Linked DNA regions of Homo sapiens. The protein of the gene in region 1 interacts with the protein of each later gene in a pairwise test. Each region holds a gene or a part of one and is shown in the gene's direction. Other genes may lie near its edges. The genes, in order: ZHX3 and COL26A1.

What was found.
Region 2: the proteins of ZHX3 (region 1) and COL26A1 interact in binary tests that used the Homo sapiens proteins (3 or more experiments, as listed by UniProt).

What each region holds. Positions count from the first base shown.
Region 1 is NC_000020.11:41,197,781-41,213,789, reverse strand, and holds part of ZHX3 (zinc fingers and homeoboxes protein 3), read left to right. Parts: exon of another isoform or gene 1-56; intron 57-8,723; 5' UTR 8,724-8,873; coding exon 8,874-11,733; intron 11,734-12,405; coding exon of another isoform or gene 12,406-12,455; exon of another isoform or gene 12,456-12,504; intron 12,505-16,009. UniProt on the Homo sapiens protein: Acts as a transcriptional repressor. Involved in the early stages of mesenchymal stem cell (MSC) osteogenic differentiation. Is a regulator of podocyte gene expression during primary glomerula disease. Binds to promoter DNA.
Region 2 is NC_000007.14:101,363,171-101,379,179, forward strand, and holds part of COL26A1 (collagen alpha-1(XXVI) chain isoform 1 precursor), read left to right. Parts: coding exon 1-20; intron 21-16,009.

The sequences.
Region 1 (16,009 bases):
TTGGGACTATTGCCAAAAATCAAATCCATCTTCATGTTGTCCACTTCTCAGCCTTAGTAAGTAAAATACCAGGAACACTATATACCTTTTCCTCAGTGAATCCCAGTCCCCATTACAAATAGCAGTTCTGGCCCTGTGCCTGGAGTGCTTGTGTTGTGTTGCTAGGGCTCTGCAGTTAGCTTCTCCTGAGTTCTGCTGCCTGGCCTTCTGGTGTGCTCATGCTCTTTTTCCTTTGTGTTGTTGCTACTTCCAGGTAGTAGGTCTGCATCTCTCTTCCCTCTCCTCTGGCAAACCTGATGTTCACAGGCACTGCCATTCAGCTTCTCTAGGGCCACAGTAAATATTACCAAGGTGAGTCAGGAAGTAGCACAGAACTGTGTCACCTATATTGAAACCTTAGAAATGTAAATGCTGACCCTCTTCTATAGAACTGAGTGCTATAATTTACTGTCCTCTACCTTTCTTGGTTTCGATGTCCTTCCTGAGGTTTTTATCATATTCAGAGTTGTGCAGCCATCCCCACTATCTAATTTCAGAACAATTTTCATTGCCTGGTGACTCATTAGCAGCCACTCCCCCTTCTCCCCTACTCTCAGTCCCTGGCAACCACTAATCTACTATCTGCCTCTATGGATTTGCCTTTTCTGGATATTTCATATAAATGGGAATCATACAGTATGTGACATTTGTGTCTGACTTCTTTCACTTAGCATCAGGATCATCCATGTTGCAGCATGCATCAGAACTTCATTCCTTTTCATGGCTGAAGAATTCATCGTATGGATATATCATATTTTACTTACCCATTCACCAGCTGATAGATGTTTGGGTTGTTTCCACCTTTTGGCCATTATTTGAATAATGCTGCTGTGAACATTTGTGTACATATTTTGGGGTGGACATGTTTTTATTTATACTGTGTATATACTTAGGAATTAAATTGCTGGTGTTTTGTTTTTTTTGTTTTGTTTTGTTTTTGGTTTTTTTTTTTTGAGACACAGTTTAGCTCTTGTTGCCCAGGCTGGAGTACAATGGCATGATCTTGGCTCACTGCAACCTCCGCCTCCCAGGTTCAAGCAATTCTCCTGCCTCAGCCTCCTGAGTAGCTGGGATTACAGTCATGCACCAACATGCCTGGCTAATTTAGCATTTTTAGTAGAGATGGGGTTTCTCCATGTTGGTCAGGCTGATCTTGAACTCCTGACCTCTGGTGATCCGCCCGCCTTGGCCTCCCAAAGTGCTAGGATTACAGGTGTGAGCCACTGCGCCCGGCCAAATTGCTGGATCTTATGGCAACTCTATATTTAACATTTTGTTTGCCAAACAGTTTTCCAAAGTGGCTATACCATTTTACATTTTCATCAGCAATACGTGAGGGCTCCAGTTTCTCTGCATCCTCATCTATACTTGTTATCTGTCGCTGTAATTACAGCCATCTTGGTGGGTGTGAAGTGGTATCTCATTGTGGTTTTGATTTGTGTTTTCCTAATAACTAATGATGTTGAGCAGTTTTTTATGTGCTTTACTGGCCATTTGTATATCTTCTTTGGAGAAGTGTCTATTCAAATCCTTTACCCGTTTAAAAATTATCTTTCTATGGTTGAGTTGTAAGTTATTTATATAATCTGGATATACTTTACCAGATAGATGATTTGCAAACCTTTTCTTTCTGTGGATTGTCTATCTTTTCACTTTCTTGATGGTGACCTTTGAAGAATGCAAGTTTTTAATTTTGATGACATCCAATTTATCTGTTTTTTCTTTTGTCGTTTGTGCTTTCAGATATTCTACTTGATGTCTTCCATAACTTGTCTGAAAATCTGATTTGCTCACTGGGTCCATAACTGTATTATTTTTAGTTTCCCTGATTTGGGATCATAAAGCACTTGATTTAAAATGTTTGCCAATGATATATACAAAGGAGCTTAGAAATGTTGATGCTCTTTGAGATGGTAAGCCCATTCCTGTGCACTTAACCTCAGGAAATAATTTGATAGAAGAAAAACATCCTGTATGCCCAGAGATGTTTGTTTCACTGTCACCCATGAGATTGGCATGCTTTTCAACAGCAGGGGTGGATAAGTCAAATTCATTGTGGTACATTATTAGGTAGCTATTAAATGTTAAACTTATGAAGCTTGTGTAACAAAAAGGTTTATAACGTAATGTTTGGTGAAAAAAGCACAAATGTGTGCTCATTGTGATAAAAATATGAATAAAATATCTGGACTAAATGAGAAGGTATACCAAATTATAGACATTAAATTTATTTAAATTACATTTTATCTTTATAATTAAAAATTAAGTAAAAAAGTGTGCATGCCAGTTCAAATTGGTGGGGGAAGGGGTGAGAAGTTGTTAGAGTGGGTTTATGTTTACCCTCACCTTCAAAGTTTTAAAAATTATTTTCATCATAAAATAGCCGTGTTTATTTACTGAGAATTTGAATAGAGATATTTTAATTTTCTTTACATCTTTGTATCAAATCCAAATACTGATAACTTGATTTTAGTATTAGAATTACTATTGTTTTAGTCATTAGAGCATTATGATTTGCTAAAACGAAAAGTAATAATGATGATTATCATTCTATATTAGTAATAGGGCTCACAGAATCCCTTTTCTCATGGCATCCTGTGAAACAATTATTATTATTATTTCTTTTTGAGTTATCAACTGTTTAATTTCGGTCTTTTATATATAAAACCATTGGTTTTGTTTTCAGGTTAGTTTTCTGCCTTAGCTGTTTTCTTTCTTAGCATTTTAAAAGTGTGAAGTCAATCTATTTTATTAAAAGTTCAATACATCTAAATTCACAGGTAAGGGATGTTATGTAATGTCTGGATAGTGTAATGATTATTTGTTTCTGGTTTCCTCTTCTTTCTTCTTTCCTTTCTTTTAAAAAAATACTTAAAAGCATATGTGAAGATTACTTATAATTCTTTTTTAAATTATACTTTAAGTTTTAGGGTACATGTGCACAACATGCAGGTTTGTTACATAGGTATACATGTGCCATGTTGGTGTGCTGCACTCGTTAACTTGTCATTTACATTAGGTATATCTCCTAATGCTGTCCCTCTCCCCACCCCACGACAGGCCGTGGTGTGTGATGTTCCCCACCCTGTGTCCAAGTATTCTCATTGTTCAGTTCCCACCTATGAGTGAGAACATGTGGTGTTTGGTTTTCTGTCCTTGTGATAGTTTGCTCAGAATGATGGTTTCTAGCTTCATCCATGTCCCTACAAAGGACATGAACTCATCATTTTTTATGGCTGCATAGTATTCCATGGTGTATATGTGCCACATTTTCTTAATCCAGTCTATCATTGATGGACATTTGGGTTGGTTCCAAGTCTTTGCTATTGTGAATAGTGCCGCAATAAACATACGTGTGCATGTGTCTTTATAGCAGCATGATTTATAATCCTTTGGGTATATGCCCAGTAATGGGATGGCTGGGTCAAATGGTATTTCTAGTTCTAGATCCTTGACGAATGGCCACACTGTCTTCCACAATGGTTGAACTAGTTTACAGTCCCACCAACAGTGTAAAAGTGTTCCTATTTCTCCACATCCTCTCCAGCACCTGTTGTTTCCTGACATTTTAATGGTCGCCATTCTAACTGGTGTGAGATGGTATCTCATTGTGATTTTGATTTGCATTTCTCTGATGGCCAGTGATGATGAGCATTTTTTCATGTGTCTTTTGGCTGCATAAATGTCTTCTTTTGAGAAGTGTCTGTTCATATCCTTTGTGCACTTGTTGATGGGGTTCTTTGATGTTTTTCTTGTAAATTTGTTTAAGTGCTTTGTAGATTCTGGATATTAGCCCTTTGTCAGATGGGTAGATTGCAAAAATTTTCTCCCATTCTGTAGGTTGCCTGTTCACTCTGATGGTGGTTTCTTTCGCTTTGCAGAAGCTCTTTAGTTTAATTAGATCCCATTTGTCAATTTTGTCTTTTGTTGCCATTGCTTTTGGTGTTTTAGACATGAAGTCCTTGCCCATGCCTATGTCCTGAATGGTATTGCCTAGGTTTTCTCCTAGGGTTTTTATGGTTTTAGGTCTAACATTTAAGTCTTTAATCCATCTCGAATTAATTTTTGTATAAGGTGTAAGGAAGGGATCCAGTTTCAGCTTTCTGCATATGGCTAGCCAGTTTTCCCAGCACCATTTATTAAATAGGGAATCCTTTCCCCATTTCTTGTTTTTGTCAAGTTTGTCAAAGATCACATGGTTGTAGATGTGTGGTATTATTTCCGAGGGCTCTGTTCTGTTCCATTGGTCTACATCTCTGTTTTGGTACCAGTACCATGCTGTTTTGGTTACTGTAGCCTTGTAGTATAGTATAGTTTGAAGTCAAGTAGCATGATGCCTCCAAGTTTGTTCTTTTGACTTAGGATAGTCTTGGCAATGTGGGCTCTTTTTTTGTTCCATATGACCTTTAAAGTAGTTTTTTCCAATTCTGTGAAGAAAGTCATTGGTAGCTTGATGGGGATGGCATTGAATCTATAAATTACCTTGGGCAGTATGGCCATTTTCACAATATTGATTCTTCCTATCCATGAGCATGGAATGTTCTTCCATTTGTTTGTGTCCTCTTATTTCGTTGAGCACTGGTTTGTAGTTCTCCTTGAAGAGGTCCTTCACATCCCTTGTAAGTTGGATTCCTAGGTATTTTATTCTCTTTGAAGCAATCGTGAATGGGAGTTCACTCATGATTTGGCTCTCTGTTTGTCTGTTATTGGTGTATTGGAATGCTTGTGATTTTTGCACATTGATTTTGTATCCTGAGACTTTGCTGAAGTTGCTTATCAGCTTAAGGAGATTTTAGGCTGAGACGATGGGGTTTTCTAAATATACAATCATGTCATCTGCAAACAGGGACAATTTGACTTGCTCTTTTCCTAATCGAATAACCTTTATTTCTTTCTCCTGCCTGATTGCCCTGGCCAGAACTTCCAACACTATGTTAATAGGAGTGGTGAGAGAGGGCATCCCTGTCTTGTGCCAGTTTTCAAAGGGAATGCTTCCAGTTTTTGCCCATTCAGTATGATATTGGCTGTGGGTTTGTCATAAATAGCTCTTATTATTTTGAGATACGTCCCATCAATACCTAATTTATTGAGAGTTTTTAGCATGAAGGGCTGTTGAATTTTGTCAAAGGCCTTTTCTGCATCTATTGAGATAATCATGTGGTTTTTGTCTTTGGTTCTGTTTATATGATGGATTACATTTATTGATTTGCATATGTTGAACCAGCCTTGCATCCCAGGTATGAAGCCAACTTGGTCGTGGTAGATAAGCTTTTTGATGTGCTGCTGGATTCGATTTGCCAGTATTTTATTGAGGATTTTTGCATCGATGTTCATCAGGGATATTGGTCTAAAATTCTCTTTTTTTGTTGTGTCTCTGCCAGGCTTTGGTATCAGGACGATGTTGGCCTCATAAAATGAATTAGGGAGGATTCCCTCTTTTTCTGTGGATTGGAATAGTTTCAGAAGGAATAGTACCAGCTCCTCTTTGTACCTGTGGTAGATTCAGCTGTGGATCTGTCTGGTCCTGGACTTCTTTTGGTTGGTAGGCTATTGATTATTGCCTTAATTTCAGAACCTGTTATTGGTGTATTCAGGGATTCAACTTCTTCCTGGTTTAGTCTTGGGAGGGTGTATGTGTCCAGGAATTTATCCATTTCTTCTAGATTTTCTAGTTTATTTGCGTAGAGGTATTTATAGTATTCTCTAATGGTAGTTTGTATTTCTATGGGATCGGTGGTGATATCCCCTTTATTGTTTGTTATTGTGTCTATTTGATTCTTCTCTCTTTTCTTCTTTATTAGTCTTGCTAGCTGTCTATCAATTTTGATGTTTTCAAAAAACCAGCTCCTGGATTCATTGATTTTTTGAAGGGTTTTTTGTGTCTCTATCTCCTTCAGTTCTGCTCTGATCTTAGTTATTTCTTGCCTTCTGCTAGCTTTTGAATGTGTTTGTTCTTGCTTCTCTAGTTCTTTTAATTGTGATGTTAGGGTGTCAATTTTAGATATTTCCTGCTTTCTCTTGTGGGCATTTAGTGCTATAAATTTCCCTCTACACACTGCTTTAAATGTGTCCCAGAGATTCTGGTATGTTGTGTCTTTGTTCTCATTGGTTTCAAAGAACATCTTTCTTTGTGCCTTCATTTCGTTATGTACCCAGTAGTCATTCAGGAGCAGGATGTTCAGTTTCCATGTAGTTGAGCGGTTTTGAGTGAGTTTCTTAATCCTGAGTTCTAGTTTGATTGCACTGTGGTCTGAGAGACAGTTTATTATAATTTCTGTTCTTTTACATTTGCTGAGGAGTGCTTTACTTCCAACTATGTGGTCAATTTTGGAGTAAGTGTGCTGTGGTGCTGAGACAAATGTATATTCTGTTCATTTGGGGTGGAGAGTTCTGTAGATGTCAGTTAGGTCTGCTTGGTGCATTTAGCCCATTTACATTTAAGGTTAATATTGTTATGTGTGAATTTGATCCTGTCATTATGATGTTAGCTGGTTATTTTGCTCGTTAGTTGATGCAGTTTCTTTCTAGCATTGATGGTCTTTACAATTTGGCATGTTTTTTGCAGTGGCTGGTACCAGTTGTTCCTTTCCATGTTTAGTGCTTCCTTCAGGAGCTCTTGTAAGGCAGGCCTGGTGGTGACAAAATCTCTCAGCATTTGTTTGTCTGTAAAGGATTTTATTTCTCCTTCACTTATGAAGCTTAGTTTGGCTGGATATGAAATTCTGGATTGAAAGTTCTTTTCTTTAAGAATGTTGAATATCGGCCCCCACTTCTCTTCTGGCTTGTAGAGTTTCTGCCGAGAGATCCGCTGTTATTCTGATGGGCTTCCCTTTGTGGGTAACCCGACCTTTCTCTCTGGCTGCCCTTAACATTTTTTCCTTCATTTCAACTTTGGTGAATCTGACAATTAATGTGTTTTGGAGTTGCTCTTCTCGAGGAGTATCTTTATGTTGTTCTCTGTATTTCTGAATTTTAATGTTGGCCTGCCTTGCTAGGTTGGGGAAGTTCTCCTGGATAATATCCTGAAGAGTGTTTTCCAACTTGGTTCCATTCTCCCTGTCATTTTCAGGTACACCAATCAGACGTAGATTTGTTCTTTTCACATAGTCCCATATTTCTTGGAGGCTTTGTTCGTTTCTTTTTTCTCTTTTCTCTCTAAACTTCTCGCTTCATTTCATTAATTTGATCTTCAATCACTGATACTCTTTCTTCCACTTGATCAAATCGGCTACTGAAGCTTGTGCATGCGTCATGTAGTTCTCATGCCATGGTTTTCAGCTCTATCAGGTCATTTAAGGTCTTCTCTACACTGTTCATTCTAGTTAGCTATTCATCTAATCTTTTTTCAAGGTTTTTAGCTTCTTTGTGATGGCTTCGAGCATCCTCCTTTAGCTCAGAGAAGTTTGTTATTACTGATCGTCTGAAGCCCTCTTCTCTCAACTCATCAAAGCCATTCTCCATCCAGCTTTATTCCATTGCAGGTGAGGAGCTGCGTTCCTTTGGAGGAGAAGAGGCACTCTGATTTTTAGAATTTTCAGCTTTTCTGCTCTGGTTTCTCCCCATCTTTGTGGTTTTATCTACCTTTGGTCTTTGATGATGGTGGCGTCCAGATGGGGTTTTGGTGTGGATGTCCTTTCTGTTTGTTAGTTTTCCTTCTAACAGTCAGGACCCTCAGATGCAGGTCTGTTGGAGTTTTCTGGAGGTCCACTCCAGACCCTGTTTGCCTGGGTATCACCAATGGAGGCTGCAGAACAGCAAATACTGCAGAACGGCAGATGTTGCTGTCTGATCCTCCCTCTGGAAGCTTCATCTCAGAGGGGCACCCAGCTGTATGAGGTGTCAGTCGGCCCCTACTGGGAGGTGCCTCCCAGTTAGGCTACTCAGGGGTCAGGGACCCACTTGGGGAGGCAGTCCAACTGTTCTCAGATCTCAAGGTGAGACCACCCTTTGAGTGGTCGTACACAGAAAATGTATAGCTTGCTGGGCCACAAACTGGTTCTGTGGATTCCCTGACCCTCTGACCTTTGGTTTCATCTCAGTAACAGTGGTCCGGGATACATAACAGCCAGTAACTGTAAGGTGATCGCTTTTCTGTGGCCTGGAATAAGTGCGGCAGGCAAGGAAAGGCTACAGAGGCCTGGCTCTTACAGCAGCCGGTCTTCCTAGCCACCCCCGCCCACCCCACCCCTTCCGTTCACACACTGCAGCTAACTTGGTCCCTGGGCCTGGCTTGGGACAGACAGAGGCGTCATCTTGTTCTCATATGCGGGAAGGCTATGAAAAGAAAACCGCGTGTTGGTCCAAAATGTAAACAAGAATTACACTAGGATCTTTTGTTCTCACTCTGACATGGTCAGAATTAATTTGGAGGTCCAAAAAGAGGGCGTTTTGTTTTTTAATCTGAATTACTTAATGCAGGGATATGTAGGGGGTGGTGGGGAAGAAACAAAAATACGTTGCTTAAGTCTATCAGTTGGTATTGGACCATCCCCAGGTCATTCTTCAGGGTCCAGTTTTTGTCATTAGGGGGTTCCTAACTTAGACTTCATATCCAAGTTGCTGATTAAACTTACTGTGAAAAGACCTAGATGGTAGAAGGCAAGCAGTGGAATGTGTCTGGGTATCCGAGAAATATACAGAAAGCACTTAAGAGAACTTAATCATTTTTTTCTCCCTTTCCTTAGATTGAATAGGGAAAACCTGCTTTCTGCAAACAACTGAAAAAGCTGCATTTAGAAACTGTTTCTTTGGCCCTCATCGAGAAGCTGGAACTTGTATTGTTAGGCCCCTTATGGGACAAGCTCTCAACTGCTGATCACCCAGTGATTGTCACCATGGCCAGCAAGAGGAAATCCACCACACCATGCATGATCCCAGTGAAGACTGTGGTGTTGCAAGATGCCAGCATGGAGGCCCAGCCCGCTGAGACCTTGCCTGAAGGACCCCAGCAGGATCTGCCCCCAGAAGCATCTGCTGCCAGCAGTGAGGCAGCACAGAACCCCAGCAGTACTGATGGCTCTACACTGGCCAATGGGCATCGGAGCACTTTAGATGGCTATTTATATTCCTGTAAATACTGCGATTTCAGATCCCATGACATGACCCAATTTGTGGGACATATGAACTCAGAGCACACAGACTTTAATAAAGACCCAACCTTTGTATGCAGTGGGTGCAGTTTTCTGGCAAAAACCCCTGAGGGGCTTTCCTTGCACAATGCCACATGTCACTCCGGGGAAGCCAGCTTTGTGTGGAACGTGGCCAAGCCAGACAATCATGTGGTTGTGGAGCAGAGCATCCCTGAGAGCACCAGCACTCCTGACCTAGCGGGTGAGCCCAGTGCTGAAGGGGCTGATGGACAGGCAGAAATCATCATTACCAAAACTCCAATCATGAAGATAATGAAAGGCAAAGCTGAAGCCAAAAAAATTCATACACTCAAGGAGAATGTCCCTAGCCAGCCTGTGGGTGAGGCCTTACCAAAGCTGTCGACTGGAGAAATGGAGGTGAGAGAGGGGGACCATTCCTTCATCAATGGGGCAGTTCCAGTCAGCCAGGCATCTGCCAGCTCTGCAAAAAACCCCCATGCCGCCAACGGGCCCCTGATAGGAACAGTGCCAGTTTTGCCAGCTGGCATAGCACAGTTCCTCTCCCTCCAGCAGCAGCCCCCAGTGCATGCCCAACACCATGTCCACCAGCCACTGCCCACGGCCAAGGCCCTTCCCAAAGTGATGATCCCCCTGAGCAGCATTCCAACGTACAATGCAGCCATGGACTCTAACAGCTTCCTGAAGAACTCCTTCCACAAGTTCCCCTACCCCACCAAAGCCGAGCTCTGCTATTTGACTGTGGTGACCAAGTATCCAGAAGAACAGCTCAAGATCTGGTTCACAGCCCAAAGGCTGAAGCAGGGGATCAGCTGGTCCCCTGAGGAGATTGAGGATGCCCGGAAAAAGATGTTCAATACAGTCATCCAGTCTGTGCCTCAGCCCACAATTACGGTTCTAAATACCCCACTCGTCGCCAGTGCTGGCAATGTCCAGCATCTCATCCAGGCCGCTCTTCCAGGTCACGTTGTGGGGCAGCCAGAGGGTACAGGAGGGGGACTTCTGGTCACTCAGCCATTGATGGCCAATGGGTTGCAAGCAACAAGTTCCCCTCTCCCCCTCACGGTGACATCCGTCCCCAAGCAGCCAGGTGTGGCACCCATTAACACTGTGTGTTCAAATACAACGTCAGCTGTGAAGGTGGTCAATGCGGCCCAGTCGCTCCTCACGGCCTGCCCCAGCATAACCTCCCAAGCCTTCCTTGATGCTAGCATCTACAAAAATAAGAAATCTCATGAACAGCTGTCAGCTCTGAAAGGGAGCTTCTGTCGGAACCAGTTCCCAGGGCAGAGCGAAGTTGAACATCTCACAAAAGTGACGGGCCTCAGTACCAGAGAGGTGCGGAAATGGTTCAGTGATCGTAGATACCACTGCCGGAACTTGAAGGGCTCCAGAGCGATGATACCTGGAGATCACAGTTCCATCATCATTGACTCTGTGCCAGAGGTGTCCTTCTCCCCATCGTCCAAGGTCCCTGAGGTAACCTGCATTCCGACAACAGCCACACTAGCAACCCACCCTTCTGCCAAACGACAATCTTGGCACCAGACTCCTGACTTCACACCAACCAAATACAAGGAGAGAGCCCCTGAGCAGCTCAGAGCCCTGGAGAGCAGTTTTGCACAAAACCCTCTTCCTCTTGATGAGGAACTGGACCGCCTGAGAAGTGAAACCAAAATGACCCGACGAGAAATTGATAGCTGGTTTTCAGAGAGACGGAAAAAAGTGAATGCTGAGGAGACCAAGAAGGCTGAGGAGAATGCCTCTCAGGAGGAAGAGGAGGCTGCTGAGGATGAGGGTGGAGAAGAGGATTTGGCCAGTGAGCTAAGGGTCTCTGGTGAAAATGGCTCTCTGGAAATGCCCAGCAGCCATATCTTGGCAGAGCGCAAAGTCAGCCCCATTAAAATCAACCTGAAGAACCTGAGGGTCACTGAAGCCAATGGCAGGAACGAGATTCCAGGGCTGGGTGCCTGTGACCCTGAGGATGATGAGTCAAACAAACTGGCAGAGCAGCTCCCAGGCAAAGTGAGCTGCAAAAAGACTGCCCAGCAGCGGCACTTGCTGCGGCAGCTCTTTGTCCAGACACAGTGGCCAAGCAACCAGGACTATGACTCCATCATGGCCCAGACGGGTCTGCCACGGCCAGAGGTGGTGCGCTGGTTTGGAGATAGCAGGTACGCACTGAAGAACGGCCAACTCAAATGGTACGAAGACTATAAGCGAGGCAACTTCCCACCAGGGCTACTGGTCATTGCCCCTGGCAACCGGGAGCTCCTGCAGGACTATTACATGACACACAAGATGCTGTATGAAGAGGACCTGCAGAACCTCTGTGACAAGACCCAGATGAGCTCCCAGCAGGTCAAGCAGTGGTTTGCTGAGAAAATGGGGGAGGAGACCAGAGCCGTGGCAGACACAGGCAGTGAGGACCAGGGCCCTGGTACTGGTGAGCTCACAGCAGTTCACAAAGGGATGGGTGACACCTATTCAGAGGTGTCTGAGAACAGTGAGTCGTGGGAGCCCCGTGTCCCTGAGGCCAGCTCAGAGCCCTTTGACACATCGAGTCCCCAGGCTGGACGTCAGCTCGGTAAGGAGTCCACAGGGGCCATGGCTATCCTGTGTGGGTAAGGGGAGGAGGCACTTATGGTTGGGCACTGAATTTACTGCACAGGGGCATCTGCTGTCTCTAAGGCTGCCTGGCAGCAGCATTAACCGCCTGGCTGCTTCAGAGGACAACTAGCAGCAGAAGCCATAGGAATATAATATGATAAACGGTTGAGAGCTGTTTTTTGTTTCATGTGTTTTTAAAAACCTGCGCAGGGGAAGGAACATGGTGACCCTAAAGGGGTCCAAGCTTTTCTAGCCATTTCTTAGCAATAGGAGAACAGGTCAAAACATCCTCTGAGTCGGGCAGATCCACAGCCACTGGGTAGGAGACAGCAACAGGACATGAGTTGAAATTCAGCTCAAATTGATGAAAAGGAAAGAGAGCCTTTAATTGTCCTTAGATACATAATGTGCTTTTTTCTGATGATGAAAGTCTTGTGTTTCTCTGGTTATGCCTGATGTAGAAGAAATGTTTAGTATAATGGAAAATCACCTTCCTTCTTTGACATACATGGAATCAAAAGCTTGAATTTTGTTCCTCAGTTTCTCTGGATTGTACTCGAAAGCAAAATGTATCATAGAAGATTATTTTTATTTAAGACATAGTTTTGAAGCCACAGACAAGTCATGTTATTACGTGTTGATTTTCTAGGTTCCTGGTCACTGAGTTCCCAGCCTCTCCCTTCCCTCCTTACCCTTTGACATTTGTGTTCTCATTAGAGACCCCATCAGAGGGCAGCCAGAAGCTCAGGTGAGAGCCAGGAGGGCGGAGTATTGTAGAAGCTGAAGGGATTGGGGGTTCCAAAATGGCAGCATTGCTAGCTGAGTTGGCAATGTGGGAGGGGGTACAGGAGACACTATTTGTGGTGTTGGGCAATGTGATGGTTCCGTGGTGACTTTGGCATGAGCTGCCTCAGTGTGGGGCCTTGTGTTTGGTACCTCATCCCCAGGGCCAACCATAGTGGCCTATCCCTCAGAAATCCCACAGAATTTCCTGGATGGTGTTGCATTGTTTCCATACAATAGCCAACCATTGTTGTTTGTTTATTTTGGCCTGGCAAATCCCAGCTCCTCCACCCCAGTTGCTTTCTACTTAGGATGTCTTAAAAAGGACAAAATTCTTTTTCTTTCTCTGAATATTTTAAATTCATTTGAACACAACAGTTTGAAACATAGTTATGCTATTGTTTCTTTACTGAATTAAGGAAAAAGAGACTTCCTTTTTGGCCCATAATTTGGTGGGTTGGGGGCGGGGAGTACCATGTCATCCATCTGTTTAGCATTTGCAGAAAGCCTGTTCTTCTCATATTAACATACTAAGGCAAAATCCAGTTCCACAAAGCCCACAGTGAGAGCAAACACCTGGTGGAGCCCAAAGCCCTGGTCAGCACTTAGGGTAGGAGTACAAGGGCCACTGGCTCCCTTACAGCCTCCTCCAACTCCAGCCATGTTTTCAATACGGCAACAACAAAACACTCCCCTCCTTTGGGGCCCACAGCTCACAGCCTGCTTTATAAAGTAGCTGATGGCACACCCTGGAGTCAGAACAACAGGTTTTTATGGCTAGTTTAACTTTTTTATAATGCAGAGCAGGTAGTCTCTCCTACAAGTCTTTGTCCAAGTTTGTAAGTTGGTCCTTATATTATACCCAGCTCTGTGCTTCTTGTAATATACCAGTAGGCCAGGGTGTCATGCTCAAGAGAGATGAGGATGTTTGAACAAGTTGATTACGAAAGCTGACATGGAGAATGATGTTATGGAAGATGGCAGTAGCAGCACCAGGAATCTTTTCCTCCACCAAAGCAGTTGAGCTGGCAGTAATTGTCTCAAGCAACTGTTTTGGGACTCAGAAGTCTAGTTGAACACTTGCAACATCCAGGGAAGAGCTTGATGGAGAGGCTTACAAATTTTGATGGTTTTTTTTTGTTTCAGCATCCGCAAGCTCTGCAGCAGGCAACTGTGGAAAATGTTCCTGGTGCAGACTGTTGGTGCCAGGGTAGGCAATAACAACTTTGTCCTCCAAAAGTCAAGTTTTTGTGGCCAGGTGTGGTGGCTCACACCTGTAATCCCAGCACTTTGGGAGGCTGAGGTGTGGATCACTTGAGGTCAGGAGTTTGAGGCCAGCCTGGCCAACATGGTAAAACCCTGTCTCTATTAAAAATACAAAAATTAGCCAGGCATGTTGGTGAGTGCCTGTAATCCCAGCTATTTGGGAGGCTGAGGCAGGAGAATCACTTGAACCTGGGAGGCAGAAGTTGCAGTGAGCCAAGATGACACCACTGCGTTCCAGCCTGGGCAACAGAGTGAGGCTCCATTGCAAAAAAAAAAAAAAAAGAGTTTTTTGATTTCTGATTACTGCATTTAATCACTGAGGGGGCCAGTGCAGAGGCTGATCATTGTCTCAATGCCCTTGGGCAGAGGGAGCTTTCTAGCCACAAGGGGATTTAAAGAGACAGTACCTATTTTTTTTTTTCTTTATTCCTCCTTTTGGCAAGCCAGATATTTAAGGAAATCTTAGGTCACTGGTTAACCACAGAGATATCACAACAGAAACTTCACTGACCCCATACTGCAAAGAATACACACTTCACAAAAATAGTTGGAAAAGTCACAAATAGTTGGCTCCAGCCCTCAATAAGCAAAAATCAGCAATCTCTGAGGCATGACAGAATTAGATTCTCAGTTACCACAATGTAATACTCATAATGTCCAGTTCTCAACAAAAAATTACAAAACATAAAAAGAAATAGAAAACCATGGTCCATTCACAGGAAAAAAAATTGACAGGCACCATCCTTGAGGAAGTCCAGACATTGGAATTATTACCCAAAGACATTAAATCAACTATCTTAAGTATGTTCAGCGAGCTAAAGGAAAACATGGACGAAGAACTAAAGGAAATCAGGAAAACCATGCATGAACAAAATGAGAATATCAATAAAGAGATAGAAATTATAAAAAGGAACCAAACAAATTCTAGAGCTAAAAAGTATAATCCCTGAAATGGAAAACCCACTAGAGGGATTCAACAAAGATTTGGGCATGCAAAAGAAGAGAACAGTGAATTTGAAGAGAAAATAATTGAAATTATCCAAAGGAGAAGAAAGAAAAAAAATATTTAGGAAAAAAAACCTGAGAGAGCTGTGAGACATCATCAAGCATACTAATGTACTCATATATTCATATAGTTATTATATTCATTAGTATATTCATACTCATATACTCATATAGGAATCGCAGAAAAAGAAAAGGGACAGAAAGAATATTTAAAGAAATAATGATAGAAAATTTCCCAAATCTGATGAAAGACATGAATCTACACATCCAAAAAGCTCAATAAAATCCAAGCAGGATGAACTCAGATCCACACCAAGACATGTTATATTAGGATTGTCAAAACCTGAAGACAGGATTTTGAAAGCAGCAAGAGAGAAGCAACTCGTCACACAGAATTTTTGACAAGATTAACAGCCGATTCCTCATCAAAAATCTTGGAAGCCCAAAGGCAGTGAGATGACATATCTAAAGTCGTGAAAAAAAGAAAAAAAAAAAACCTCTAAACCAAGATTTCTGTATATGGCAAAACTATTCTTCAAAAATGAAAGAGAAATCCAGACATTTCCAAATAAAATTGAAGGAGATCATTATTAGTAGACATGCCCTACCAGAAATGCTAAAGGGAGTCCTTCATGCTGAAATGAAAGGATACTGAACAGAAACTTGAAGCCATAAGAAAAAATAGGCCAGGTGCCGTGGCTCACACCTGTAATCCCAGCACTTTGGGAGGCCGAGGCGGGTGGATCACGAGGTCAGGAGTTTGAGACCAGCCTGGCCAACATGGTGAAAACCCATCTCTACAAAAAATACAAAACTTAGCTGGGCCTGGTGGTGCTAATCCCAGCTACTTGGGAGGCTGAGGCAGGAGAATCGCTTGAACCTGGGAGGCAGAGCTTGCAGTGAGCCGAGATCGCACCACTGTACTCCAGCCTGGGTGGGGCAGAGCAAGACTCCATCACAAAAAAAAAAAAAAAAAAAAAGAGCACTAGTTAAGATAACTTTAGAGGTAAATATAAGAGCCAGTACTATTGTACTTTTGGTTTATAACTTTTTCTCTTTGTGCTTTATAATTTAAAAGACAAATTCATTAAAAAATTATAAATCTATATTAATGGGCATAGAATGTAAGATGTAATCTGTCTAAATAGTAAAACTAACAAATTAGTGCATTGTAAAAACAGAATCAAAACAGTACATTG
Region 2 (16,009 bases), on another chromosome or scaffold:
AGCGGCTACGCGAGCCGCCGGTGAGTAGCTCGGGGCCGAGGGGCCGGGGGGTGGGGGGAGGGAGCGGACAGCGGGGGCCCTGGCCACTGGGTGGCTGGAGCGAGGCTTGGGGGCTGGAGAGCGGGGCGATCCGGGACTTGGGGGCGCAGGGCAGCGGGGACTGGGGGCTGCAGACACCGGGCAGCTGGAACGAGAGCTGGAGGGGGTTGGGGTGCGGGGCGATTCGGGCCTGGGGGCGCGGGGTGGCGGATGCCAGGGGCAGGGGACACGGGGCAACTGGGACGAAATGGCGGTGGCTGGGGGTTGGGGTCACGGGGGGAAAGACCGAAGGGCCTTGGGTGCAGGGCGATTGGGGGCTGGGGCGCGGGGCGGCGGGGGTTGGGGGCTGCAGACGGGGCAGCTGGAACGAGCGATGGAGGAGGCTGGGGGTTGGGGCCGCGGGGCTGCGGGGCTGCGGGGTTGCGGGGGCTGAAGGTTCGGGTCCGGCTCCGGGGCTGCGGTGGTCTCTGGCCGCGCCCACCCTGTCCCTTCCTTTCTTCGCTTCCCCAACCTTCGCCCCCTCGTTCCGGGCTCCGAGTAGAGGTGGTTCCGACCGCCGTGGCTGGGGCTGGGGCTCTGCCCGGGGCGTTCGGCCGCTCACGTGGCTCTGCCGCTCACCTGCGCGGCTGCGGCTTTGTGTCGCGGAGCAGGTTCTCGGGTGGCCAAGGCCTCGCGTCCCGGGCACCCCTCTCCTATCAGCGGCCCCAGGACACCAGAGGGGTCATTCCCGCCCAGTCTTTGGGGCTGAGGCCGCGGAGGATCCTCGGCTGCGACTCCCCAGCCACCCCGGGACGTGGAACCGGCTGGGATCGGGTGGCTCCGTGGCGGGGTTGGAGAGGGCGCAGGGTCACCGGGCCCGGGCGCCGGGACCCGCCAGGCGTCTCCTTCCTCTCGGCCGGCAGGTGGCGCCATGGCCACCCCCGGGACGCTCAGGGCTGCGGCTCCGGAGCCCGCATTTGAATTTCCCCAGAAAACCATAAGCATGCAAGTAAAAGTTGCCAAACGCCTCGTTTGCATAACTCGCTTGAATTTAGCTTTTCTCATTTAGTGATAACTACAACCTACACAGCTATGACAGCGCTCTGGAATGCACTACCTGTGTCTGTTCCCTCCGTCTCTTTTTTATATTTTAATTTTTTTTTTTTGCAGAGGCAGAATCTCAACTCTGTTGCCCAGGCTTGTCGCAAACTCCTGGGCTCAAGCGATCCTCCCGCCTTGGCCTCCCAATCTCCATTTCTTTTGATCCTTAACAACCCTAGGGTTAAAACATTAGAGTAGTATCTTTCCTTTAGCTGAAGAAACAGAGGCTCAGGATTTGCTAGGCCTAGGAGCCACTCAGGACTGACCTCTTGTGCTTTCTTTCTTTTTTTTTTTTTTTTAATATAGGGTCTTGCTTGCTCCCCAGGCTGGAATGCAGTGGTGCGATCATAGCTCACTGCAAACCTGATCTCCCAGGCTCAAGTGATCCCCCGACCTTGGCCTCCTGTGTAGCTGAGATCACAGGTGTACACCATCATGACTGGCTAATTTTTTGATTTTTTGTAGAGGTGGGATCTCACTGTGTTACACATGCTGGTCTCAAACTTCTGGCCTCAAGAGATCCTCCTGCCTCGGCCTCCCAAAATGCTGGGATTACAGGCGTGAGCCACCACGCCAGGCCCAGATCTGGTGTTTTCTAGCATACTGCTCTGCCTATCAAAGCTAAAAGACAGCTCCTAGTTCTTTTTTTCTCCTTGATATTTACCAAATCAGAGGACTCCAAGATGATTTCTGGCTAATTCCTTAATAACAAGGAGACAGGGATGTTTCATGCTGGGAAGAAATATACAGTCATGGCTGAATAGGGCGGGACCCAGAAAAGCATAAAAGTGCCTCTGGAAAAGTTTGTATGCAATCCTATTTCTCTCATTTTGTTTGGAAATACTTACCCGGGGCTTCTATGAGGAGCATTCTCCAAACACCCACGCTAGTGTGGCCTCTGCACAGTTCCATATGAGGATTGTCTAAAAAACAAGCTTTTCAAGTTACAGAATAATATATACAGCACGATTTCATTTATGAAAAGGAAAATCAGATCTACATCTAGGTAGATAAATGCCTGAAAAAAGTTTCTAGGAAACCATTTCAGCAGTTAATGTTATGAAGAAGTCTAGGGCTGGGCCAGGGGACTGTCCCATTTTCCCTCTGTCTGCTTGTGGCTTGTCTGAATGTTTTTCTGGTTTCTGTGTTTTTTTTGAGACAGAGTCTCGCTCTGTCTCCCAGGCTGGAGTGCAATGGTGCAATCTTGGCTTACTGCAACCTCTGCCTCCCAAGTTCAAGTGATTCTCCTGCCTCAGCCTCCCAAGTAGCTGGGATTACAGGTGCCCACCACTGCGCCTGGCTAATTTTTGTATTGTTGGCCAATAAAAAATGTAACGTTGGCCAGGCTGGTCTCAAACTCCTGGCCTCAAATGATCTGCCTGCCTCAGCCTCCCGAAGTGCTGGGATCACAGGCATGAGCCACTGTGCTTGGTCCCTAAGAGAACCTACTGGCCGGTACGGGGATTGAATGGATGTTTTGCAAGGAGCGTATATTCATGTAATACTTTTGTAATTAAAAGGTGTGGGAAGGAAAAAAAAAAAGGTGTTTGCAGCCTGAAATACGCCTGCAAAAAAGCAAGAGGTGAGGACCATGAAGAGCGGGAGCGAATGGGGACCTCATTCTGGCATTTGGTGGGTTGGAACTTGGGGACATCTGCAGAAACTTGGAAGGGATCATTTTAGCACAAACAAAAAGAGGCTCAAACAAGTGTGGAATCTTCCAGAACTCTTTCCACCAGGATAAGAACAGGGAGAGGATATAATTAGGTTTAGGGAGGATGTGGATGAATCTGTGGGCAATGGATTCCTAAAAAGGATACCAGAAGGTGTTGGGGAGGCTTGGGGCACATTGATATTCCAGAGTGTGACTGAGTCTCTTTGCCCAGAAAGCCCAGCGTGGGCATTGCAGGCACCTGGTTGTTGCCTGGGTGAGTTACAGGCTGGAGCTGGCTTGGGCGTCACATGTTTCTGTGTCTCATGAGCTATCTATCACAAGTGTCCCTTGTCCTTGAGATCCAAGATGTCCAGAAGCTGAAGGCTTGGGGACAGCAGTGGTCCTTGCAGCCTTGGCCTTCAGTAGTGTGTTTACCGGGGCTTGGCTTCAGTTGACAGGCAATGATGACAGGGCTGTTTCTTGACAAAGAGTGCTTTAATTTCATTGTTACTGCTCCTTGTTAACGTCTGATTTTTTTTTTTTTTTTTTTTTTTTTTTTTTTTTTTTTTTTTTTAAAGACAGGGTCTTGCTCTGTCACCCAGGCAGGAGCGTAATGGTGCAATCATAGCTCACTGCAGCCTCGACCTCCTGGGTTCAAGCAATCCTCCCACCTCAGCCTCCTAAGTAGTTGGGACCATAGGCATGGGCCACCATGGCTGGCTAACTTTTAAATTTTTCATAGAGGTGGGGTCCTGCTATGTTGCCCAGGGTGGTCTTGAACTCCTGGCTTCAAGTAATCCTTCAGCTTTGGCCTCCCGAAGTGTTGGAATTACAGGTGTGAGCCACTGTGCCTGGCCAAAAAGCAGTTTTTAATTGTTAGTTTGTTCAAATCAGGATCTAAATAAGTCTGCTTATTGGTTATTCTGTCTTTTCTCTCCCTTTTAGTGTAGGAAAGTCTTCCCCCTTTGAGAGAGTACTTTTTCCTCCACGCTGTTGACTTGTTGAAGACCAGTTGTTCTCTGCGATGTCCACGTACTAGATTTAGCTATTTCCTTCCCAGTGGTGTAGTTAACTTGATCTGCAATGTCCACGTACTAGTTTTGACTAATTGCTTCCCAGTGGTGTAATTAATTGGATCCTCTGCCCCCTGTATCTCTTCTATTTTGGAAGTTAGGTTGGAAGGTTTGATTAGATTTATGGTCTCTATTTGGGCTTGCTGGGAGAGACAGAAATTCTTCATAGGTGGTCTAGTCTACCATATTATATCAGGAGATGCTCTGGACTGATGTGTGTGTCCCCACCAAATTCATATGTTGAAGCCCTATCCTCCAATGTGGTGGTATTTGGAGGGGGGACCTTTGGAGGTAACTAGATTTAGATGAAGTTGTGAGGGCTGTGCCCCATTATTTGATTAGGGATGTTATAAGAACAGGAAGAGAGGCCAGGTGCGGTGGCTCATGCCTGTAATCTCAGCACTTTGGGAGGCCCAGGTGGGTGGATCACCTGAGGTCAGGAGTTTGAGACCAGTCTGGCCAACATGGTGAAAACCCGTGTCTACTAAAAATACAAAAATTAGCCGGGCGTGGTGGTGCACACCGGTAGTCCCAGCTACTTGGGAGGCTGAGGCACTAAAATCGCTTAAGCCCGGGAGGCGGAGGGTACAATGAGCTGAGATCATGCCACTGCACTCCAGCCTGGGCAACAGAGTGAGACTCTGTCTCAAAAAAGAAAAAAAAAAAAAAAAAGAAGAAGAGAAATCAGAGCTCTCTCTCTTTGCCATGTGAGGACACAGCACAGCAAGAAGGTGGCTGTCTGCAAACCAGAAAGAGAACCCTCACCAGGAACTGAATCTGCCAGCACCTTGATCTTAGACTTCCCAGCCTCCAGGGCTATGAGAAATAAATGTCTGCTACTTAAGCCATTCAGTCTGTGGTATTCTGTTACGGCAACCTTGAGCTGACTAACAGAAGGATGTGGCTTTATTCTGGAAAGCTGGGTGTTAAATATTCAGCAGAACACCACTGTCTACAAGTCTCCTCCACTGTCTCCCTTCTTTTTGTTGCAATTTATTTGTTGAAGAAACTTGGCCTTCTAGATTGTTCCTTTTTCAGGATTTTGTTGGTTATATGCTCATGGTGCCTGTGAACATGTTCATCTGTCCTCTTTATTTCCAGATAATGGGAAATTAGATCAAGAGCTTGGTTGGATCTAGTTCTTCCTCCTCCTTCGTTTTCTATTTTGGCAGAATTACATCTTGGGTGCTGTAGTGTTTTTCCATTGGAAATCACAACGTCTGGTTGTCTCTCTTTTTCTCTCGTGATGCTTGAGGTGTTGGTGATCATTGCGTATGTCATTCTTTCATTAAGGATCGCAAAGTGGATGCAAGACAGGCAGGCCCCCAAATTGGGGCTTAGCCAGGAGGGTTCTTGGCTTCACCCAGGAAAGAATTCAAGGGTGAGTGGGTGGTTTCAGACAGCAACTTTAATTGATGTGGCAGTGTACAGCTGCAGCAGAGGTCCTGCTCCTTGCAGAGCAGGGATACCCCATAGGCAGTGTGCCCAGACTAGCAGCTCAGAGGCAGTTTGGCACTATTTATACTTACTTTTAACTATATGCAAATTAAGGGGCAGTTTATGCAGGAATTTCTAGGATGAAGGTGGTAACTTCTAGGTTGTTGGGTTGTTGCCATGGAAAGGCATGGTAACTTCCGGGTGTTGCCCTGGCAAATGGTAACTGACATGGTGCCCTGGTGAGTGAGTCTTATGGGGATGTGCTTCGTCCTAACCTGTTTTAGCTAGTCCTCAATTTGGTCCGGTGTCAACCCCAACCTCCAGAGTCAAGTCCCGCCTCCTACTTCAAAGTAGTACTATAATTTTGACTCTTTTTAAAATTCGTAATTGCTAGAATACTTATAATTTCCCCCTTATTTACTATTTGTAGGTAGAAAAAACTCACTCAAAATCTGGCTCTTTCCAAAAAAAAAAATTCTTTTTGCAAATGTAAGCAATTTGTGTGTGTATGTGTGTGTGTGAGCGTAACAGTGTGTATGAGTATGTGTGTGTTTGTGTCTGTATCCTCCTCCTTTTCTTACACAGAGGTAATATGCTAGTTACTCTGTCTTCAACTTGGCCTTTTTCCATCATAACGTGTTGTGGAGATGGCTCTATCAAAAAGCAAAGATGGGGGGGCATGATGACTCACGCCTGTCATCCCAGCACTTTGGGAGGCCAAGGTGGGTGGATCGCTTGAGGTCAGGAGTTCGAGACCAGCCTGGCCAACATGGTGAAACCCCTTCTCTACTAAGAATACAAAAATTAGCTGGGCATGGTGGCGCATGCCTGTAATCCCAGCTACTTAGGAGGCTGAGGCAGGAGAATTGCTTGAACCCAGGAGGTGGAGGTTGCAGTGAGCTGAGATCACGTCACTGCACTCCAGCCTGGGTGACAGAGCAAGACTCAGTCTTAAATAAATAAATAAATAAAGCAAAGGTAATCTGCATCTTTTTTTTTTTTTTTTTTTTTTTGAGACAGAGTCTCGCTCTGTCGCCCAGGCTGGAGTGCAGTGGCGCAATCTCGGCTCACTGCAAGCTCTGCCTCCCGGGTTCAGGCCATTCTCCTGCCTCAGCCTTCTGAGTAGCTGGGACTATAATCACCCGCCACCACACCCGGCTAATATTTTTGTATTTTTTTTTAGTAGAGTTCTGCATCCATTTTTATGGGTCTGTTGTTCTGTACAGTGTGAGTGACTGTATTTATTCAGCTAGTCCTCTACTGATAGACACTTGTGTTGGTAAATGGCAAACACATGTTTAATTCTGCTAGATAGCGTCAAGTTTCCCTCCACTGGGGTTACAGCATTTTGCATTCCCATCAGCAGTTTCTTCTTGGGGTACATTTTGAAGAGTCCATTTTATTTTATTTTATTTATTTGTTTTTTGAGATGGAGTTTCGCTCTTGTTGCCCATGCTGGAGTGCAATGGCATGATCTCGGCTCACCGCAACTTCCGCCTCCCAGGTTCAAGCGATTCTCCTGCTTCAGCCTCCGTAGTAGCTGGGATTACAGGCATGTGCCATCATGCCTGGCTAATTTTGTATTTTTTGTAGAGATGGGTTTCTCCATGTTGGTCAGGCTGGTCTCAAACTCCCGACTTCAGGTGATCCACCCGCCTCAGCCTCCCAAAGTGCTGGGATTACAGGCATGAACCACCGCGCCTGGCCTGAAGAGGACATTTTAAATGATGCTGGTTGATATGGCCTTTCAGGGGTAAGAATAGACTTCCCTGATCTTATAGCACCTGCAAGTCCTGGCCACCCCTAACCTTTTTGGGGCTTGGGGCAAGACTAAAGATGAAGACCATTCACCATTTGGCTAGATATTTAAAAGTATAAAATCAAGCTGACACACTGTTTGTTTTGTTGTTGTTGTTTGTTTTGTTTTTGTTTTTTGAGACGGAGTCTGGCTCTGTTGCCCAGGCTGGAGTGCAGTGGCACGATCTTAGCTCACTGCAACCTCCGCTTCCCAGGTTGAAGCGATTCTCCTGCCTCAGCCTTCCGACTAGCTGGTATTACAGGCATGCACCACCATGCCTGGCTAATTTTTTGTATTTTTAGAAGAGATGGGGTTTTGTCATGTTGGCCAGGCTGGTCTCGAACTCCTGACCTCAGGTTATCTGCCCACCTCATCCTCCCAAAGTGCTGGGATTACAGGCATGAGCCACTGCACCCTGCCCACCTTTCCTTCATCTATACCTGCTGCTTCAAACTCTCTCTGTCTCTGAATTCACTTTCTTGTGGTTTCGTCTAAGCCAAAGTGCTTGGTGTGTCCCCTCCTCACTCAAAATGCCTCCCTCTTACCTTGACTCCCCCCTCTTTTGGTAGAACCACAAGCACCCTTCCTCCAGGAAGTCTCTCTGGATTTACCTCCCAGCTTTCTGTTCATCTCATTTGTGGGTAGCCCCTGCACCTGTGATTTGTGGGTAGCCCCTGCATCTGTGATTGTGGTTTTGGTTCTAGAACTCACTTCCCCAGTTTCCCTCCTTGCAGATGGAGTCATTTCTCCTTCCTCATTTACTCCCTACAGGAGTGGCTCTGAGCAGCCGTCCTTGGGCAAGCGTGCATGAGCTGGAGCTTAGCCCTGCCCACCACCCACCACTGCCTCTTGGAAATGTGAGCCGCTCCAGGTCAGGCATTTAATCACCTTGCATTCACTGAGCCCACGTGTAGGTAGGGTAGAGGCTGGGGACTCAAACGTGAAGGCAGGGGGCTGTGCCTGGTGGCCTGCATGGAGGAAGAGCTCAGCAGACTCTGGGGAAGTGGATGATCACATCCATGGGGACTTGTCCCTCCGACTGGATTGCATGCCTCTGCAGTGTTGGACCCCTGCCTTTGCTCTCTGGTTCCCTACATTCAAGAATTGGCAACTGTGATTAGCTATGGTGCCTCATGCCTTTAATCCCAGCACTTTGGGAGACCGAGGTGGGAGGATCACTTGAGCCCAGGAGTTTGAGACCAGCTGGGACAACATAGCCAGACCCTGTCTCTGTAAAAAAAAAAAAAATTAAAAAATTAGCTGGGTGTGGTGGTGCACACTTGTAGTCCTGGTGGAAGCTGAGGTAGGAGGATCACTTGAGCCCAGGAGTTTGAGACCAGCCCGGGAAATATAGTCAGACCCTGTCTTTGCAAAAAAAAAACTTTAAAAAATTAGTTGGGCATGGTGGTGCACACTTGTAGTCCCAGGTATTTGGGAGGCTAAGGTGGGAAGAACGCTTGAACCCAGGAAGTTGAAGCTGCAGTGAGCTATGATTACACCACTGCGCTCCAGCCTGGGTGACAGAGTGAGACCCTGTCTCTGGGGCAGTGAGATGTTTCAGACCCAGCCTCCGTCCTTGATGAGCTCAGAGACTGGTTGGGGAAAACAGATCCATGAGCAAGAGTGGAATTTGGTGTGATACAAATGTGTGCAAAGTGAGCTAGGGGAGTTAGGGTTTGTGGGAGCCTGGGAGTCTTTGTGCCTCAGTTTTCTCATCTGTAAAATGGGAATGACTTCAGTACTTCATTAAGTTGTTCTGGGGCTTACATGGGTTAATATTAATAATGTTCTTAGGAAAAAGGATAGTAAACCCTCTGTTCATGAATGTGACCGTGGACTGCATTCATATGCCTTGCAAAGGTTGCAAGGACGGGGGAGTTCCACAAATATATGAAGCCTTGGAATCTTTTTCTGGGGAGCATTTTGTTTTTTGAGACGGAGTCTGGCTGTGTTGCCCAGGCTGGAGTGCAGTGGTGCGATCTTGGCTCACTGCAACCTCCGCCTCCAGGGTTCAAGCGATTGTCCTGCCCCAGCCTCCCAAGTAGCTGGGATTACAGGCGCCCACCAACATGCCAGGCTAAGTTTTGTATTTTTAGTAGAGCTGGGGTTTCTCCACGTTGGCCAGGTCTTGAACTCCTGACGTCAAGTGATCCATCTGCCTTGGCCTCCCAAAGTGCTGGGATTATAGGTGTGAGCCACCGCACCTGGCCTTCTGGGGAGCATTTTGTTAGGATTGTGTTCCTGACCACATACTTAGGGAAATGTTCTAGTGGATAGAGACTAAATGTTGAGGACTTCTCAGAGGAGTCAACATAGGAGGTGGGTTTTGTAGGATGAACAGGAGAGCTTGAGGCAGTGACTGGGGCATTCTGGGCAGACAGACAACTGTGTAAAGGCTTGGAAGTGTCATTAGCTATTGCCTGACATATAGTTAGTGGGACTGAGTTCAGAGTGGCTGGACTAATGGGATGTGGTGGCTCATGCCTGTAATCCCAGCACTTTGGGAGGCCAAGGTGGGAGGATTGCTTGAGCTCAGGAGTTCAAGACCAGCCTGGGCAACACAGCAAGACCCCGTCTCTACCAAAAATAAAAAATTAGCCAGGTGTGGTGGAACACACCTGTAGTCTCAGCTACTCAGGAGACTGAGGTGGGAGGATTGCTTGAGCCCAGGAGTTTGAGGCCGCAGTGAACTATGATCGTGCCACTGCACTCCAATCAGGGTGACAGAGCAAGAGCAGACCATGGGCTTGGGCAGGCAGAGGACAGGCACTGAGCTTTTGGAGTCTGGATGTGAAGTCTCCTTCCTGCCACCTTGAGGAGCTTGCCTTCATAGTCTGGGCTTTGTCACAGTCAGGCTTGTGCCAACTTTGCTGGTCGGGGAGAGGCTGGCAGAGGAAGGATAGTGGAAGGAGGGAGGCCAGTTAGGAGGTAGTTGATGGATGGAGCAGGGGAGAAGGGAGTGCTCAGAGCTAGCAGGACCTGGCCCCTTGGTGGATCACGGATAGGCAGAGACAGGCTACAGGCCTGAGCTCCTGGCTGTCTCCAGTGCCTGGGGGACACCAAGGAGCCTGCTGCTTTGCTTCTCAGAACATTGCAAATTTTTTGCAGCACTTTCTTGGTTTGCAATGGCAGCAAAGCAGAGTTCAAACATCTTGCATTTTTGTGAAATACTTTTATTTTTCCTGCATGGAGTTTTCAACCCCAAATTTCAGCATCTCCTGGACTTGCACGGATCAGGTGCTCAAGGAAAGTTTGTTGAGTGAATGAATGAACACATGAATGAATGAACAAATACCTTGACCTTTCTCCTTTGGGACACCGAGGCAGTGCCTCTGCCTCAGTGCACGTTTGCAGTTCTGAGGGATCCTGGAGCGAGGTCCCTTTCTCTGCACAGGCCAGCTCCTGAAGCTGCTTTTAGGGGAACCATGGAGACTCCAGCTTTAGAGGTCCCGCTTCTCCCTTTGAAGTGTGAGCACATAGAGGAGGGAGACTTTTCCTGAGAATCACACAGAATGGCTTTGATGTTAATATCAGTGAGACCTTGTCCTCAAGCTCCAGGATTTTCTGAATCTTCCCTCTCTTCATCTCACTCCCCTCTTCCCCCAGCTCATCTGTTATTTTAAAATCCATTCCCAGAGAAACAATTCCTATGGCAATAAGAGCACTCCTCCAGGCTTCTCTTGGCTCGAACTCGTGTGACACTTCATTGCCACTTCCAGAGTGTGTGAGCTGGACCCGGACCAATTCAGCCTGGGGCAGGGGAAAAGAGCAACAATAACTAACTGTTAGAGGATTTTCGGGAATGTTAGCACAAAGTGCTCCGGGAATTCTGCAGACAATCCTACGGAAACATACACATGCCGTGCTGTTCTGCCCTCCGAGTTGTCAGGGGTCCCTGGCCTTCCCAGCCTGGCCTTGTCTCTACCTGCCTCCCAGAAACCAGGGTCTAGAGCTTCTCTTCGGAGTCCTGTAACAGACTACCCTGAAACAAGCTGGACTGAGTCCAGGTTAATTCTGAAATACTGGAGGAGAGCGGTGTGCGTTCTGGCCCCCTGCATCTCCTTGTTTGCCCCACCCCTAACTACCTCCAGAGTGATCTATGTAAAGCAGGAGTCCCCAACCCTGAGGTCACAGACAAGTACCGGTTCAAGACCAGTTCAAGGAACCGGGCCGCACAGCAGGAGGTGAGTGATAGGCGAAAAAGCCTGAAGCTTCATCTCTACAGCTGCTGCCCTCGCTCGCATTACTGCCTTAGCTCTGCCTCCTGTCAGACCAGCAGCGGCAGTAGATTTTCATAGGAGCTCCAGCCCTGTTGTAAACTGCACAGGCGAGGGATCTAGGTTATGCACTTTTATGAGAATCTGATGTCTGATGATCTGTCATTGTCTCCCATCACCCCCAGATGGGACCGTCTAGTTGCAGGAAAACAAGCTCAGGGCTCCCATTGATTCTACATGATGGTGAGTAGTAGGATTATTTCATTATATATTACAATGTCATAATAATAGAAATAAAGTGCACAGGCCAGACACGGTGGCTCACGCCTGTAATCCCAACACTTTGGGAGGCCAAGGCGGGCAGATCATCTGAGGTCATGATGGAGTTTGAGACCGGCCTGGCCAACATGGTGAAACCCTGTCTCCAATAAAAATACAAAGAATTAGCCAGGTGTGTTGGCGGGCACCTGTAATTCCAGCTACTTGGGAGGCTGAGGCAGGAGAATCGCTTGACCTGTGAAGCGGAGGTTGCAGTGAGCCGAGATCACACCACTGCACTCCAGCCTGGGTGACAGAGTAAGACTCCATCTTAAAAAAAAATTTTTTTTAAATAAATAAAAAAAAAGAGGAAGGCTGTGAAGAGTAGGATCTGGAACCAGGCTGCCTGAGTCTGAGTCCAGGTTCTGTGTGGCCCTGACTAAGTTGCCTGCCCTCTCTATGCCTCAGTCACCTCATCTATAAAATGGGTATGATTAGAGTGTTTCCTTCATAAGGTCATTCTGGGGCTTATGCAAGTTAATATTAATCAAGCGCTTAGAACAATGTCTAGTATGTGCTCTAGGAGGCCATATGAAAGGATAAAGGCTTCTCTCAGATGGTGTAGTGTGCTGATGGGGACTTGGCAAAGCTTGGGAAGATGATGGATTTCACAAACATAGGAAGCATGGCTGGGCACAGTGGCTCACACCTATAATCCCAGCACTTTGGGAGGCCAAGGCATGAGGATCACTTGAGACCAGGAGTTCGAGACCAGCCCGGGCAACATAGCGAAATCCCCTGTCTACAAAAAAATAAAATAAAAATTAGCCAGGTGTGGTAGGGCACACTTGCAATCTCAGCTACTTGGGAGGGGAGGCTGAGGCAGGAGGATTGCTTGAGCCCAGGAGTGTGAGACCAGCCTGGGCAACATAGCAAGACCCCATATCTACAGAAGAAAGAAAGAAAGAAAAAGAAAATTGGCCAGGCACGGTGGCTCACGCTTGTAATCCCAGCACTTTGGGAGGCTGAGGTGGGCAGATCACGAGGTCAGGAGATCCAGACCATCCTGGCTAACACGGTGAAACCCTGTCTCTACTAAAAATAAAAAAATTGGCTGGGTGTGGTGGCGGGTGCCTGTAGTCCCACCTACTTGGGAGGCTGAGGCAGGAGAATGGCATGAACCCGGGAGGCGGTGCTTGCAGTGAGCCAAGATCGCGCCACTGCACTCCAGCCTGGGCGAAAGAGTGAGACTCCATCTCAAAGAAAAAAAAAAAAAAAAAGAAAATTAGCCAGGCACGGTGATGTGTGATTGTAGTCCCAGCTACTTGGGAGAGGAGGCTGAGGTGGGAGGATCACTTGAGCCCAGAAGCATGAGCCCAGCCTTGGCAATATAGCAAGACCCTGTATCTACAAAAAAAAAAAAAAAAGAATAGAAACTAGCCAGGTGTGGTGTTGAATGCTTATAGTCCCAGCTACCTGGGAGGGGAGGCTGAGGCGGCAGGATCACTTGAGCCGAGGAGGTGGAGGCTATGATTAAGTCACTGCACTCCAGTGTGGGTGACAGAGTGAGACCCTGTCTCAAAAAAAGTCTCAAAAATATCCTCCCCAAAACAAAACAACAAACATATGAGGCCACAGAATCCTTTTCTAGGGTGCCTTTTGCCAGGGTGGTGTCTTTCAGACTGCACACCCTGTGAGATGCTGTTGTGGATGGGGGCTAAATGCTGAGGACTTCCTAGAGGAGTCTCCATTCAAAGCAGGTCTTGTAGGATGAGCAAAATGTCCTGATAGGTTTCCGGTGCTCTCCCAGAGCTGGTCCTAAGCCTGCTCACTGGGGTCGTTTCGGACCTTCTCCTGTAGCTGAGCCCACCCTTGCTGCTGCAGGGGAGCCGGAGAAAACAGAAGCTGTAATCCTGATGGTTTTTCCTTGTCTCTTAGGACCCTGCTCAGGTTTTCAAGACCAGAGTGAGGGGTGTGGGCCTATCTGCACTCCCAGCTGAACCTCAGCCACTTTGGGCGTCAGTGCAGAGGATCATCCCCAGATGTGATTGAGGAGCAGATGGGAGGGATCGGAGGGTGCTCAGATGCCTGTGGTGAGGACTGAGGCTGAGGATTTATTTTCTTTATTTTATTTTCTTTATTTATTTTTTGAGGCAGAGTCTGGCTCTGTCACCCAGACTAGAGTGCAGTGGCGTGATCTTAGCTCACTGCAATCTCTGCCTCCTGGCTTCAAGTGATTCTCCTGCCTCAGTCTCCCGAGTAGCTGTGATTATAGGTACCTGCCACCACACCTGGCTAACTGTTGTATGTTTAGTAGAGATAGAGTTTTACCATGTTTGCCAGGCTGGTCTCAAACTCCTGACCTCAGGTGATCCGCCTGCCTCGGCCTCGCAAAGTGCTGGGATTACAGGCCTGAGCCACTGTGCCTGGCCTTCTTTTCTTTTTTCTTTTTTCCTTTTAAATAGAGATGGGGGTGTCACTATGTTGTCCAGGTCAGTCTCAACCTCCTGGCCTCAAGTGATCCTCCCACCTTGGCATCCCAAAGTGCTGGGATTACAGGCATGAGTCACTGTGCCCGGCTGAGGATTTCTGATGAGCTTCATGTCCCAGACAGTGTGAGAGCAGAAGGGACCTGGGGAGGCCCTAAGGTTGGGGGGAAAGGGCTTTTTCTGCCTTGTCTCATGCAGCCAGCCTGCAGTGACTCACTTTTTTTTTGGAGCCAGGGTCTCACTCTGTTGTTCAGGCTGGAATGCAGTGATGTGATCACATAGCTCACTGCAGCCTTGACTGTCTGGACTCAAGTGATCCTTCCACCTTAGCCTCTCGAGTAGGTGGAACTATAGGCATGCACTACCATGCCTGTATCATTTTGGTATTTTTTGTAAAGACTGGGTCTTGCAACGTTGCCCAAGCTGGTCTTGAACTCCTGGGCTCAAGCGATTCTCCTCCCTCAGCCTCCCAAAGTGCTGGAATTACAGGTAGGAGCTACTATGACCAGCAGTGACTTACTTCTGAAGGACCCACAGTTAAGCCAGCAACTTCCCTTCATTGCTTTAGTCCCTCATCAGTGAACAAAACAAAATAGGTTGGAATCAAATGAGGAAATGTGTTTAGTAGATAGGCTGACTGATCATTGCTGTTCATTTGAATGAGGGCTCCATCTATCCTTTTTTAAATTTTAATTTTTTTACATTTTAGAGACAGGGTCTTGCTCTGTCACCAAGGCTAGAGAGCGGTGGCACAATCACAGGTCACTGCAGCCTCCACCTCTCGGACTCAGGTGATCCTCGTGCTTCAGCCTCCTGAGTAGCTTGGACTACAGGTGTGCACCAGCATGTCTGGCTAATTTATCATTTAAAAATTTTTTGGGGGGCTGGGCCTGGTGGCTCAAACCTGTAATCCCAGCACTTTGGGAGACTGGGGCAGGTGGATCACCTTAGGTAAGGAGTTCGAGACCAGCCTGGTCAACATGTTGAAACCCTGTCTCTACTAAAAATACAAAAATTAGCTGGGTGTGGTGGTGCATGGCTGTAATCCCAGCTACTTGGTATTGGCTCTGTTTCTCCATAGGCTGTGAGGCAGGGATTTAACTTAGTTTTTTACTCAAACCGCCCTCACACTTTTATTGAATAACCCATTCTTCCTTGCTAATTTGAAATGCCACTTTTATCATATACTAAATTTCCCTATATGCATGAAGCAGGAGAATCGCTTGAACCGGGGAGGCAGAGGTTGCAGTGAGCTGAGATTATGCCGTTGCACTCCAGTTTGGGCGACAGAGCAAGACTCCATCTAAAACAAAAAAAATTTTTTTTTGTACAGACAGTGTTTCCCTATGTCACCCAGGCTGGTCTCGAACTCCTGGCTTCAAGCGATCCTCCAGACTTGGGGGCTGGGGACACCAAGACCGGTGGGGGGACAGACATTTGCTCTGCATGTGTGTAAGCTGTTTGCACTCATGACTGAGTGGTGGTTTGCAGCCTAAATATTATCTGTCTTTGTTTGCAAGAATTTGATCTCCCACCCCCTTTCTTGTTCTGGAAATGCAAGGACTCTGCGGCATTTGTCCGAGAATCTCCGACAGTTCCCAGCCCCTTGGAGGATGTCCCCTGCTTGGAGTCTTTATGATCGGCTCAGACTTTTCTTTTCCCCGGGGAGTTGTCCCTGGATCAGGGTTTGTTGCAGGATGTCTGCGGCTGTGCGGCCCCTGGAGGCGACCAGGCCTGCCAAACACTCACTGGAGTCTCACTTGGGCTTCCCCAGCCCCCGTAGTTACGAAGCCTTTGAGAGAAGGTAGCAGTTTCCTTCTGATTTGGCTCCGGCTGTCTGCGCCCCAGCCAGTTGCCTCTGGCTTCTGACATTTTTGTCATTCCTGCTCTTCTGGGAGGGTTTATCTCCCTTCCTGGCCTCCTTTGATTGACTTGGCCACACGGCTGATGCTTGGGCTCCAAGA